2 separate regions of the Homo sapiens genome follow, and region 2 is linked to region 1. Evidence: fine-mapped expression QTL. A gene starts in region 1. The other region holds a variant in brackets. All regions are shown on one strand. Distances are between the middles of the regions. Region 1 holds the start of PPP3CA (protein phosphatase 3 catalytic subunit alpha). Region 2 overlaps PPP3CA (protein phosphatase 3 catalytic subunit alpha).

Evidence for each region. PIP is the estimated chance that this variant, and not a neighbour inherited with it, causes the effect. A credible set is the group of variants that fine-mapping cannot tell apart.
Region 2: its variant is the best candidate, but not a certain one, in a credible set for the expression of PPP3CA in fibroblasts (GTEx, PIP 0.78).

The regions. Positions count from the first base shown.
Region 1 is chr4:101,346,393-101,348,892 of GRCh38, reverse strand. It overlaps PPP3CA (protein phosphatase 3 catalytic subunit alpha), which reads left to right and starts at 1,367. Exons shown (of 14, transcript NM_000944.5): 1 at 1,367-2,154. The coding sequence starts at 2,097. It overlaps PPP3CA-DT (PPP3CA divergent transcript), which reads right to left and starts at 1,116. Exons shown (of 2, transcript NR_033874.1): 1 at 884-1,116; 2 at 10-569. RefSeq lists silencers at 1,132-1,741, 2,212-2,500.
Region 2 is chr4:101,306,366-101,309,379 of GRCh38, reverse strand. The region is part of intron 1 of PPP3CA (protein phosphatase 3 catalytic subunit alpha); the gene reads left to right. Among named protein-coding and RNA genes, the nearest start is that of MIR1255A, 23 kb to the left of the region's middle. The variant A/C (reference allele first, on the strand shown) is at 1,841.

The sequences.
Region 1 (2,500 bases):
CAGGAAACATGAAGGGTGAGAAATTTATTCAGATTTCTTCATAATTCCCCCCAAAAGCTCCAACCACGTTGCCAGTCCTTGGGTGCTGCAGTTGGTCGGGGAGAGGGGCTGTGTGGAGGTCACCTTCTGGTAGACGGAGACCCGCTTTTCAGACTCTGTGGCGCAGCAGGCGGGCCAGGAACATTTGGGCCACTATTGCTCTTAGCCCTGCCGCGCCTGACTTTCTCTCCTCTACTTTCCTTCCGACCGTAGGGACAAGTGTGGGGATCCGCTTTGGGCTCCAAGGCCCTGCCCGCACTGGCAGCACCAAGCGGGTGTAGAATGACTGGAAGGAGCAGGGAAGGAAGATGGGTGTCAACTGTCCCGGCCAGTGGCTGCGTGCATGTGTGTGTGAACAGGGAAAAGGCCACCCTCTCCCATGTTTCTCCCGTCTCCTCGGTTCTCCTCGGAGACCCGCAGGGCTGCCCGAGGTAGCTCCGAGTTGCCCTGGGTCGCTGGGGCTTGGTCCGCATCCTCCTCCGCTAGTCCGCTCCCGCGTTCCACAGCGCCCCGCCGCTCGGTGTGCACGCCTGGGTGGGACACAGTAACAGCCCCTAAGCCGCCAACGCAAAAGCAAAAACAACCGTACACCGCATCGCAGTCGTAGCTCTTCTCCGCAAGGTAAGTTGTTTATTCGTCGCCGTTTTGGCGATCCTCCCTGGACAGCTGCGGCAGCGACGGCAGCTGCGCCGCGGGCGCCGAGCTCCCAGCCTCTTCCTTCCTCCGCCCTCTCAGGGCTGCCTCTCACCCCCACCCTCTTCCCTCCTATCCCCGCCTTCTCTCTTCTTGCCCTCTTGTGGGCCACGCACACACCCGGAGACACCCTCTGCACTTGGCTACTCACACTGCGGCTTAACCCAGCCGACAAGGCACGCTTGCCAAAGAGGCGCGGGTGTGTGTGTGCGGGGTCCGCGTTCGGAGGCCAAAGGAGGGTGGCGTGGTAGAGCCCTTCTCCTCCTGGCCGCGACGCCTTGCCCACTCTCCTGCCCTAATCTCGGCCTGCCAGCAAAAGTGACACCTGAGCAGGGACTGGTCCGTAGAGGCGGCAGGCCCGCTGGTCCGGCAGCTGGAAGAAAACAGAGCAAGGGGCGGGGACAATGAGGAGGAGCGGGAGGCGGGACAAGCGGGGAGGCCGCCACCTGGCACTGAGTGATGCGCCCTCTAGCCAATGAACGCGAGGAACTCCGGCGTCGGGGCGGGAGGTCGGGGGCGGGCTCAGTGGGGAGGAGGAGGCTGCAGGCGCGCAAGAGGCGGGGGCCGGGAGGAGGAAGGGGAGGAGGCGGAGGCGGGCGCGGTGTTGGCGGCGGCGGCGGCGGCGGAGGGGGGTAGGTTGTGCCCGGGACTGTGTCTGCCGAGCTCGGCGGCTGTGCCTTGGTGAGTGGAGGAGCGGCGCGGGGAGGCAGAGGCGAGCGCGGGCGATCGCGGCGGCGGGACGTCTCCGGCGGCCGCGGCACCAGCGGCGGCGCTCTGTGTGGAGAAGCAGGGGCAGCGGCAGCAGCAACAGCGGCAGCGGCAGCAGCAGCGGCAGCAGCGGCGGCCGCCTCTCCGCCGCCGGGGACGCCAAGGTGCGGCTGGTGGCACTGACATCGGCGGCCCTGCCTCTCCTCCCTCGCCCCCGGCCTTCCCCATGTGATCGGTCTTAATCCTGGCCGTGTGTGCGCGCGTGGGGCTCCATTCCGCGGTGCTGGGTCTCCGTGCCGGGGTGGGTGCTCGTGTGTGCGCTTCTCCTCCCCATCCCCCTTCCCCCAAGAATAAAAGAAGAACCGGGAGGCGTGCTCAGAAAATAAATAAATAACCACCACACACGCGCAGCCCGGAGCGAGTCGGCGGGGCTGGCGGCAGCGGCGGAGGAGGAGTGAAGGCGGCGGCGGCGGAGGAGGGACGCGCGGAAAAGGCAGCAACTTTAAAGCCAGCTCAGAGCCTAGACCTCCAGCCGAGCGGTTTGCAGCGCGGCGGCGGCGGCGGCGGCGGCGGCGTTGAGTGTCTGGCCCGCCGGTCCGGTCGGGGTGTGCAGTCGGACGGACGAGCAGCGCGTCGCTGTCCTCCGGCAGCTGGAGATGTCCGAGCCCAAGGCAATTGATCCCAAGTTGTCGACGACCGACAGGGTGGTGAAAGGTAAGCGGAGCGCCGCGGTGGCCTGGGTGCACCGTGTGCCGCAGGCGCCAGGGCAGCTTGCCTCGCCTCGCCTTTCCTCCCCTCCCCCGCCCCAGGTTCTCCTCTGTCCGCTCCAGCCGCGGACCTTCTAGGATATTGTGCAACCCGCGAACCCCGCGAACCCCCCGCCCCCGCGGCGCCCTTCCCCCACGCGTCCCACCCAGCCTCACTTGGGGCATTTTTATTGACGGGGGCGTCAGTTGGCAAATGGCTGAGCCGCGGGGAGGTGGCGGCGGGGGTGGCGGTGGTGGGAGGGGGCGCCCGGGGGGTGGTTGCTGGTAGGGTGTAGCTGCTGTGACAGAAATAG
Region 2 (3,014 bases), 40 kb after region 1:
ATAGTCTCTTATTTATGGATTATTATCAAGTAGAAAGCTTTGTCATTTTATAATATCCCCAGGAATAAAGCCCCTTGTAACTGGAAGCAACAGGAAGTACCAAGATAATACCTGATGTGTAGTATCGTTTTGTTTCCTTTCTGTTCCATAGATGACAAAGGCCTTGCTATCAAAGTACAGAAAAGGGATGACAGAGGAAGGTGGGGCTGGGGTTGGGAAGGTTTATTATTATTATGATTATTATTATTGTTTTTGAGACAGGGTCTGCTCCTTCACCCTGGTTGGAGTGCAGTGGTGCAATCATGGCTCACTGTAGCCTCAATAGCCTAGGCTTAAGTGATTCTTCTGCCTCAGCCTCGCAAGTAGCTAAGACCACAGACGCACACCACCATGCCAGGCTAAGTTTTGTATTTTTTTGTAGAGACGGAGTTTCCCTGTGTTGCCCATGCGCCACAATGCCCGACCAGGAGGTCTTTGTAGAAAACTCTGGATTCCTTTTTCTGGGAAGTATCTTCCTCTTGCTAATGGAAAAATGTTTAATCTTATGTATATAAAATTTCACATTGCAGAAAGTATGTTTTACTTGAATTATGAAATTTTTTGTGACTACAAAATAAATGAATTTTGGCTAACACTTTATTAAAAATAATTATGGGCCAGGTGTGGTGGTTCACACCTGCACTCCCAGTGCTTTGAGAGTGAGAGGACCTCTTGAGGCCAGGAGTTAGAAACATAGCAAGACCCTGTCTCTGCAAAAAGTTAAAAAGTTAGCTGGGTATGGTGGTGGGTGCCTGTAATCCCAGCTACTTGGGAGGCTGAAGCTGCAAGATCACTTGAGCCCAGGAGTTGGAGGCTGCAGAGAGCTATGATCATGCCACTGCACTGTAGCCTGGGTGACAGAGACCTTGTCTGTGAAAAAAAAATCTGAAATATTACATGTAAGGGGATTTTGTGAACATTCTATATGCTAGGTATTGTGATAAAACTGTAACCAAGTATATTGTATATAGTATGGAATGATAGTAATACCAATATCTTTCATAGAGAAGTTTCTCCTTTCCAGTTTTAAAATTTAGGATTACTTTGGGTCAGGTCTATTCATCTTTGAAGAAAATAATTTTTTAAAATTCCATTGTATAACATGAAGATTTTTGTATGTGAAAAATACATTAAAATCTTGATAAATAAGTTTTAATTTTACATTTCAGGCCAGACATTTGTTGTATGAATCTATGAGAGCACATACAGGATTCCTTGTCATATGTGGACATGAGTCATTATAAAGTGTACTGTTAAATTGTTTGGAGGCACACCCAATAGATGAAAAGGCTAAAAAATGTAATATGTAATTATGAAATTCTCCCTTGACTGCTTAGTAACCATTATGCTTTCTTTATCACTAATTATTTCGGGTAACAGATTCAATAGGTTTACAATAAGGATTCAAATCGTGAAGTGGAAGATTGTGTCTTTTACTGAAACCTAACTTAACATGGAATTGGAGTATAAATAGAATTTTTATAAAAGAGAAGTTTGTCCTTAAAAAAGCAGTGTATACTTCAGTATAACCTCCTTGGTTACTTTGGTTTGTGTTAAAGCATTCAGTATGGTATTCGCGCTGGAGGAAGGCTTCACATACTAGGCACCAAGTGTTCCAAGTGTTGGCCACAAGTACATCTGGTAGATTTAGAAACATCCAAGAAAATTTCCACCAAAAACTGTTTTATACTTGACCATGTTTTAGTGTTTTTAACACTGGACTTATGACCAGTTGTAACTACATTTTATAGTAAGAATGGCAACCATTTGTTACATAATCAAGATAAGTAATTTGTTAAGC[A/C]AAAACTTTTTTAGGGAGTTACCTTCTTTATCTGTATATATTAGAGTTTGACTAATGAAGATTTATTTTCAGCTGATAAGGTCAGCCAACTATGGTGACGTATCTGATTTGCTAGGTTTTTGCTCTGCCAAACCACCTTCTCAGAATTGTTTCGAAGGTAAAAGCTCCCAAATACTTGACATATGGCAGCTATTCTCATTTCAACACATTCTGTGTTTCAGTTCCTGCAGACCAGGAAAACTTAATCTGTAATCACAAGTGGAGCTAGGGCAAACATATCTTACCCTCAGACATTCAGGTTTTCCACGTAAGGTAGGGTCATTTGTATAAATACACTGTACCAACAGAATCTGTTTTTTTTTTTTTTTTTTGGTTCAAAGTGAAATTAGTGCAGTGATTAATCCCATTTTAGAGTCTTTGTTCAGCATGATTGAAGTTTAATGTTTTTGCTAGGAAAAATTACTTGGTGTTTTGATAGAGCTGTAACACCTACAATACCACCAGTAGCATTGGTTCTTGAGAGGAGACATAGCATGCATTCCCTCAGATATAATCCTTCAATAAATACTACTGAAGCAGCTCTCTACCAGGAAGGAAAACAGCACTCATCCTCATCCTCCCGTGGACTCACTGTTTTTGTCTTGCCTATTCTGTGCTGTAATTCTCACATCTTAACTAAAGGAGCTACCACAACTAAACAAACAGACAAAAAAAAATCAGAGTATACCTTCACAAAATAAGCAGTCTATATGAAATAAGGGAGTTGCATTTGGTTTTTTTGTCAGTAAGTCTGTAATGCTCGATATATCAACTTTCAGAATTACAGTAAGTCAGAGCAAAGAGAATGAAATCTGTAGCTCAGCTTGTTTATTTTTTTGGTTTGCTTCTGCTGAATTTTGTTTCCCCCAAGTCAGAATACGAGTCTTTTTGTGTTCTCTCTCTTCTCTTATTCTTCCGAGAAGTGAAGGTGGTGGGTGTACAGCCCATATTTGTTTACTTTTTCTGTAGCTCATATATCTATTATTACTGGTGGTTTCTTAGTGGAAATTTTTCTTTCACTCTCACTTTGGCTTTACCTCCAAGTGCTTTCTTCTCTTGGCTGCAATTGAGCACTATAATTTGTGGCTTTCCGGAGGGGGAGCCTTGGTGGTCAGGTGGAGGAGGCAGGCCACAT